2 linked regions of the Homo sapiens genome follow. The protein of the gene in region 2 purifies or fractionates together with the protein of the main gene of each other region. This does not show direct contact. Each region holds a gene or a part of one and is shown on either strand. Other genes may lie near its edges. The genes, in order: RAD51D and ICMT.

Region 1 (3,817 bases), on a different chromosome or scaffold from region 2:
GTAGTCGTAGTCCCAGCTACTCAGGAGGCTGAGGCAGGAGAATCACTTGAACCCGGGAGGCAGAGGTGCAGTGAGCTGAGATCACGCCACTGCACTCCAGCCTGAGCAAGAGCAAGACTCCATCTCAAAAAGAAAAAAAAAATTGACCTGAGGAGGCTTTACTTGGGCCCTTAACAAACTGCAGCCTTAGTATGCAAACTAACTGAAAACCTAATTTAGGAGTATACTTTTGTAACAGATTGCTGAGGCTCAGCCAATCACATCATCAGCTTCAGTGGGTTCCAGGCAGCCAACTATTCAAACCATTTTCAAATAAGGCAAAGGCAGAGCTGTAACCAATTAGTTGTCTTTGTATCTCATTTCTGTTTTCTGACCATAAATGCTTTCAGACTATGTTGCAGCTCTGGAATTCTCTGAACCTGTCCTGGTTCTGAGGGCAGCCCAATTCTAGAATTGCAAATAAAAGTCAATTACAATCTGCAAAACTATATTTGCTTTAATTTTGTCTTTTAACACCTTGTTTTCTTAATTTTTATTATTTTATTTTATAGAGATAGGGTCTTGCTATGTTGCCCAGGCTGGTCTGGAACTCCTGGCCTCAGGCGATCCTCCTACTTTGGCTTCCCAAATTACTGGGATTACAGTCAGGAGCCACAGTTCCTGGCATGTTAACACCTTGTTCTTTAAAGGACACACAGGAGGCGATCCTTCTCCTGCCTGTAGATATTGTCACGTCTGGATTGATGCTCAAAATGGCTGCAGCCAGGCTTTCATAAGGGGAACAAGCTTGAAGACAAAACCAACATAAAAGAACAGAGCAGAAGGATGCAAAGGCTCTACGCCATTTGACAATGAGCCACTAAATTAACAAACCTCAGACTTCCTGTTATCAGAGATAATAAGTGTCCCTGCCAGGCATGGTGGCTCATGACTGTAATCCCTAGCACTTTGGGAGGTCAAGGCGGGTAGATCACCTGAGCCCAGGAGTTCAAGACCAGCCTGGGCAACGTACAGAGACCCCGTCTCTACAAAAAATACAAAACTTAGATGGGTGTGGTGGCACACACCTGTAGTCCCAGCTACTTGGGAGACTGAAGTGGGAGGATCACTTGAGCTTGGGAGGTAGAGGGTACAGTGAGCCGTGATTGTGCCACTGCACTCCAGAGCAAGACTCTGTCTTGAAACATAAAAGAAATAAATATAAATAAGTGTCCCTAGTATTTACACTTCTTTAAGCCTAGGTTTTGTTACTTGCAGCCTTAATGATACATGGACCTTTGCCTGAGTCCTTGGGAATTCAAATGCCTGATTTTTAATTAAGGCCATCAAGTGCTAGCACATAGTAGGATCTCAACATTAATTTCATCTGATGTCAGACGAAGGGCATACAATAGTCCCCTGTAAAAAGATATGTAAGAAGACACTCTGGGGACTCAATGATGTGGGTGTGAACATATATATATATTTTTTAGATGGAGTCTCACTCTGTTGCCCAGGCTAGAGTACAGTGGCACAATCTCGGCTCACTGCAACCTCCATCTCCCAGGTTCAAGCGATTCTCATGCCTCAGCCTCCCAAGTAGCTGGGATTACAGATGCGAGCCATCACACCCAGCTAATTTTTGTATTTTTAGTAGAGACAGGGTTTCACTATATAGGCCAGGCTGGTCTTGAACTCCTGACCTTGTGATCCGCCCACTTTGGCCTCCCAAAGTGCTGGGATTACAGGCGTGAGCCACTGCGCCTGGCTCATATGTGTATATATATGTGTGTATATATATGTGTGTATATATATATATGTGTGTATATATATGTATATATATGTGTGTATATGTGTGTGTGTGTGTGTGTATATATATATATATATGTATATGTATATGTATATTTTTTTCCTAAGAACTAGAGAGTGCCCTCAGGTCTCAAACCACCCCCGCAGGGGAAATTGAAAGTTGACGCTTTATGGAAGGAACCCCTGAGATAGAGCCAGTCCTTTGCTTTTTTAAAATATATTTTTAAAACATCATTCATCTATTTAATCATTACTGAGCTTCCATAATGTATAAAGAGAAAAAGTGACAAAAAGTGGGAGCCTGTAGGCAGACACGTGAACAGAAAGTACAAGTGAATAACTAATACAGGGAAGTTACTGTAAGCATCTATCTAGATCACAGCTGAGGCATAAAAAAGGATGTCAGGGTGGGTGTGCACCAGACACAGTGGGAGCTGGGCAGAGACAGACACATAAGCAAAGGGAGCAAAAGGCACTTGGACAGGAGAGCCAGCCTAGCCCAAGTCCTACCAGGGGACTGCACAGTGTGGTGTGGCCGGAACAGAGTGCAGTGGCAGCAGGCAGGCAAGACAAAGTCCTGGTCTAGGAGGAGCCAAAGGATGAAGCTGGCTGTGAGGGGCACAGCCTGCAGGAATGTCACGTGGTGGTCTCAAGTAGCAGTGAATGCAACACCTTCCCATGGCCACAGAAACTCCTTGGGTGACAGCTGTGGTGCCTTCAGCTGGAGTTACAGCCCTAGCAGGAATAGAACTGTATGGACTGAAAATTAAATAAAATGTGGGGATTTTTTTTTTCTTTTTGAAACAGAGTCTCTGTTGCCCAGGCTGGAGTGCAGTGGCATGATCGCAGGTCATTGCAACCTCTGCCTCCTGGGCTCAAGTGATCCTCCCCACTCAGCCTCTCGAGGAGCTGGGATTACAGACATGCGCCACGACGCCTGGCTAATTTTTGCATTTTTTTTTTTTTTTTGAGACGGAGTCTCACTCTGTCGCTCAGGCTGGAGTGCAGTGGCGCCATCTCAGCTCCCTGCAACCTCCGCCTCCCAGGTTCAAGCGATTCTGCCTCAGCCTCCTGAGTAGCTGGGATTACAGGAAATGGGCCACCATGCCTGGCTAATTTTTGTATTTTTAGTACAGACGGGGTTTCACCATGTTGGTCAGGCTGGTCTGGAACTCCTGACCTTAGGTGATCCACCCACCTCAGCCTCCCAAAGTGCTGGGATTACAGGCGTGAGCCACCACACCCAGCCAATGTGGGAATTAAAAAAAAAAGAGTCCTAGGAATCAAGTTGTGGGTTCCAGATCCCACCTCCATTCTGCCACTAGGACTGTCAGTCATCCTTTTTGAGCCTCAGGTACCTTCTCTGTTAAGTAACAGGATGGGCCAGATGATTTTTTTTTTCCTTGAGACAGGGTCTTGCTCTGTTACCCAGGCTGGGGTGTAGTGGTGCGATCAGGGCTCACTGCAGCCACAACCTCCAAGGTTCAAGCGATTCTCCTGCCTCAGGCTCCCAAGTAGCAGGGACCACAGGTGCACATCACAATGCCTAGCTAATTTAAAAAATTTTTTTGTAGAAACGATGTCTCATCATGTTGCCCAGGCTGATTTTAAACTGTTAAACTCCTGGGCTCAAGTGATCCTCCCGCCTCAGGCTCCCAAAGTGCTACCATTATAGGTGTGAGCCACTGTGCCTGGCCCCAGATGATCTCAAACTGCAGTCCTAGGGTCCTCAGTTAGGTATTAAGTACCTGAACTCACTACATAATGGGAACAGGGCAGAGACGGCAACCAGACTCCACCTTGAATACCAACTCCAACTGACTGGTAGTGGCCCCCTGGAGTGCTATATTGAGAAAAACTTCTAAAAACACTTTGACTTCCACAAAAAAGAGTGCTTGTGCCCGATTGGTCATGTCTGCTGTGGGCTGAAGATGCCCAAATAGTACCTTGAGTGGCAAGAATTTGCAATTTCCAGCTTCATGTATTGCATCTTACTGTGGTTGCAGGAATGTGCCAATCACCCATGGTA
Region 2 (3,817 bases):
TCACATAGTGCACCATCTAATTTGAAGCCCCAACCTTGAGTAGTTGTGATTCTAATTTTATAATCAGATGATATTTAGACGTTTCATGTAAGAGTTTACTGGCCGGGCACGGTGGCGAACGCCTGTAATCCCAGCACTTTGGGAGGTCGAGGCGGGTGGATCACAAGGTCAGGAGTTCGAGACCAGCCTGGCCAATATGGTGAAACCCCGTCTCTACTAAAAATACAAAAAAGCCAGGCGTAGTGGCACATGCCTGTAATCCCAGCTACTCGGGAGGCTGAGGCAGGAGAACTGCTTGAATCCGGGAGGCGGAGGTTGCAGTGAGCCGTGATCGCGCCACTGCACTCCAGCCTGGGTGACAGAGCGAGACTCCCATCTCAAAAAAAAAAAAAGAGTTTACTAACAAGGTCGGGTGCAGTGGCTCACGCCTTTAATCCCAGCACTTTGGGAGGCCGAGGTGGGTGGATCACATGAGGTCAGGAGTTTGAAACCAGCCTGACCAGCATGGTAAAACCCCGTCTCTACGAAAAATACAAAATTAGCCGGGCCTGGTAGTGCATGCCTGTAATTCTAGCTACTTGGGAGGCTGAGGCAGGAGAATTGCTTGAACCCAGGAGATGGAGGTTGCAGTGAGCTGAGATTGTGCCATTGCACTCCAGCCTGGGCAATGAGAGTGAAACTCCGTCTCAAAAAATAAAAGCCTCCGTATGTGGAATGCACTCTGAAATTGAATGTCTCACAGCCAATGAAATGAAATACATGTGGCTCCTGGGATTCAGGGTGGAAACCTTGGACCCTTTTTTGCTTCTCTTAGCTATACTTGTCCCCAGATGAAGGACTGAGCATGTGGCCGGGGGTCGTGAACCAGAGAGCCCATCAGCTGTAGCAGGAGAGCATCTCTTTACCATGATGCTTTCATTGTGCTTATTGGTGTTTTAAAGTAAATTGATGAACAGCATAACTTAGGGGAATGTGTTTTCTTATGAAATTTTAATGTGATGACAAATGCTGATTGCCCAGCAGCACATTTTCTGTTTCTGTCTTCGGGAAAATAGGTTAATTTTAAGCAGTGCGAAGGGGAGCTCAGGCCAGTGTTTTCACTCCCCGTGTGTCGTTGATGTCTCTCTCCCACAGAACTGAAGCAGATTACCTGGCTCAGTGTCACAGGGCTGCTGATGGTGGTCTTCGGAGAATGTCTGAGGAAGGCGGCCATGTTTACAGCTGGCTCCAATTTCAACCACGTGGTACAGAATGAAAAATCAGATACACATACTCTGGTGACCAGTGGAGTGTACGCTTGGTTTCGGCATCCTTCTTACGTCGGGTGGTTTTACTGGAGTATTGGAACTCAGGTATAATATTAAATATGACACTGCTTTTCTTTTTTTTTTTTTTAAGTAACATTTTAAACGTGATATTCACGTAGCATAAAAGTCACCATTTCAAAATATACAATTAGTGGTTTTCAGTGTATTCATGAGGTTGTTGGTCTCCTTTAAATAATAGGTACATGTTCTTCTTGGCGCGTTTCAAGTGATAATTTAATAAAAGTCAAGAGAACTAATGTAGTCCTTAATGCTTTTCACTATGTGCCCAGAACCTGGGTGCGTAAGTCCTTGGTGATTCTTGGTGCTGTTAGCTACCTGCTGTATCCCTTCATCCTGTTTCTGCCTCTGTTTGTTTGTTTTCTTTTTTCTTTTTTTTTTTTTGGTAGAGACAGGGTCTTACTGTGTTGCCTGGGCAGGTCTCAAACTCTTGGCCTTAAGTGATCCTCCCACCTCAGCCTCGCAAAGTGCTAGCATTATAGGCATGAGCCATTGTGCCTCTCCCTTTCTCTGCCCCTTCAACCTATTAATAGATCTGAAGCACCCCAGAGGGGGTGAGGACAGAGATGGGGCTTAGGGAAGGGAGTGCCCTCTGTCACTCATGTGGCAGCTTGGCTAGTTTTCATCAGAAATAGGTATTAATGGGGCCGAGGCCATGTGTTAGTGAGCTGTGTGAGCCATGGAGGTTTGTTCTGTCTCAGGCTGAAGAAAAGGCCTTGTTTCGTTTCTTTTCTTTTCTTTCTTTCTTTTTTTTTTTTGAGACCTAGTCTTGCTCTGTTGACCAGGCCAGAGTGCAGTGGTGCGATCTTGGTTCACTGCAACCTCTGCCTCCCAAGTAGCTGGAACTGTAGGCACGAACCACCATGCCTGACTACTTTTCGTATTTTTTTTGTAGAGACAGGGTTTCTCGAGTTGCCCAGAGCCATCTTGAACTACTGAGCTCAAGCAGTCTGCCTTCCTGGGCCTCTCAAAGTGCTGGGATTACAGGCTTGAGCTACAGTGCCTGGCCTTTTTTTTTTTTTTTTCCTTTTTGAGATGGAGTCTCACTCTGTTGCCCTGTTGCCCAGGCTGGAGTGCAGTGGCATGATCTCAGGTCACTGCAACCTCTGCCTCCCAGGTTCAAGCGATTCTCTTGCTTCAGCCTCCTGAGTAGCTGGGACTACAGGCGCCCGCCACCACACCCGGCTAATTGTTTGTATTTTTAGTAGAGATGAGGTTTGACTGTGTTAGCCAGGATGGTCTTGATCTCCTGACCTCATGATCTGCCCGCCTCGGCCTCCCAAAGTGCTGGGATTATAGGCATGAGCCACCGTGCCCAGCTTTTTTTTTTTTTTTTTTTTTTAAAGACAGGATCTTGCTGTGTTGCCCAGCCTGGAGTGCAGTGTTCTGATCATGGCTCACTGCAGCCTTGACCTCCTGAGCTCAAGTGATCCTCCTACCTCAGCCTCCCAAGTAGCTGGAATACATTACAGGTGTTGCCACCACGTCCGGCTAATTTTTAAATTTTTTGTAGAGGTGGTTCTCCTGGACGGTTGCCTGTAATCCCAGCACTTTGAGAGGCTGAAGTGGGTGGGTCACTTGACATCAGGAGTTTGAGACAAGCCTAGCCAACATGGCAAAACCCCATCTCTATTAAAAATACAAAAATTAGTTGGGCCTGGTGGCACATGCCTATAGTCTCAGCTACTCGGGAGGCTGAGACCTGAGAACCGCTTGAACCTGGGAGGTGGAGGTTGCAGTGAGCTGAGATTGTGCCACTGCACTCCAGCCTGGGTGATGGAGTGAGACTCTGTCTCAAAAAAAAAAGAGATGGTTCCTCCTTTGTTGCCCATGCTGGTCTTGAACTCCTGGGCTCAAGCCATCCTCCTACCTTGGCCTTCTAAAGTGCTGGGATTAGGCCAGGCATGGTGGTTCTTACTTATAATTCCAGCTAGTCGAGAGACTGAGGCACAATATTTGCTTGAACCTGGGAGGCAGAGGTTGCAGTGAGCTGAGATCACGCCACTGCACTCCAGCCAGGGTGACACAGCAAGAATCTGTCTCAAAAAGAAAAAAAGAAAAAGAAGTGTAAGGATTATAGGTGTGAGCCACTGCACCTGCTCTATGTGTGTGTGTGTGTGTGTGTGTGTGTGTGTGTGTGTGTGTATTTTTTTTATTTATGTATGGTTTTTTGTTTTGTTTTGAGGCAGGGTCTCTCACCCAGGCTATAGTGCATTGGCATGATCATGGTTTACTGCAGCCTCTACCTCTTGGGCTCAAGTGATCCTCCCACCTTAGTCTCCTAAGTATCTGCCCAGGCTGGAGTGCGGTGTCACAATCTCGGCTCATTGCAACCTCCGCCTCCCGGGTTTGAGTGATTCTCCTGCCTCAGCCTTCTAAGTAGCTGAAACTACAGATGTGTGTCATCACACCTGGCTAATTTTTGTATTTTTTAATTAATTTATTTTTTTGAGATGGAGTTTCACTCTTGTTGCCCAGGCTGGAGTGCAATC

The links.
Region 1: the proteins of ICMT (region 2) and RAD51D purify together in Homo sapiens (affinity purification with mass spectrometry; 2 studies listed by BioGRID and IntAct, with this or other methods). This does not show direct contact.

Annotation. Positions count from the first base shown.
Region 1 is NC_000017.11:35,095,669-35,099,485, forward strand, and holds part of RAD51D (DNA repair protein RAD51 homolog 4), read right to left. Parts: 3' UTR 1-3,817. UniProt on the Homo sapiens protein: Involved in the homologous recombination repair (HRR) pathway of double-stranded DNA breaks arising during DNA replication or induced by DNA-damaging agents. Bind to single-stranded DNA (ssDNA) and has DNA-dependent ATPase activity.
Region 2 is NC_000001.11:6,229,437-6,233,253, reverse strand, and holds part of ICMT (protein-S-isoprenylcysteine O-methyltransferase), read left to right. Parts: intron 1-1,134; coding exon 1,135-1,352; intron 1,353-3,817. UniProt on the Homo sapiens protein: Catalyzes the post-translational methylation of isoprenylated C-terminal cysteine residues.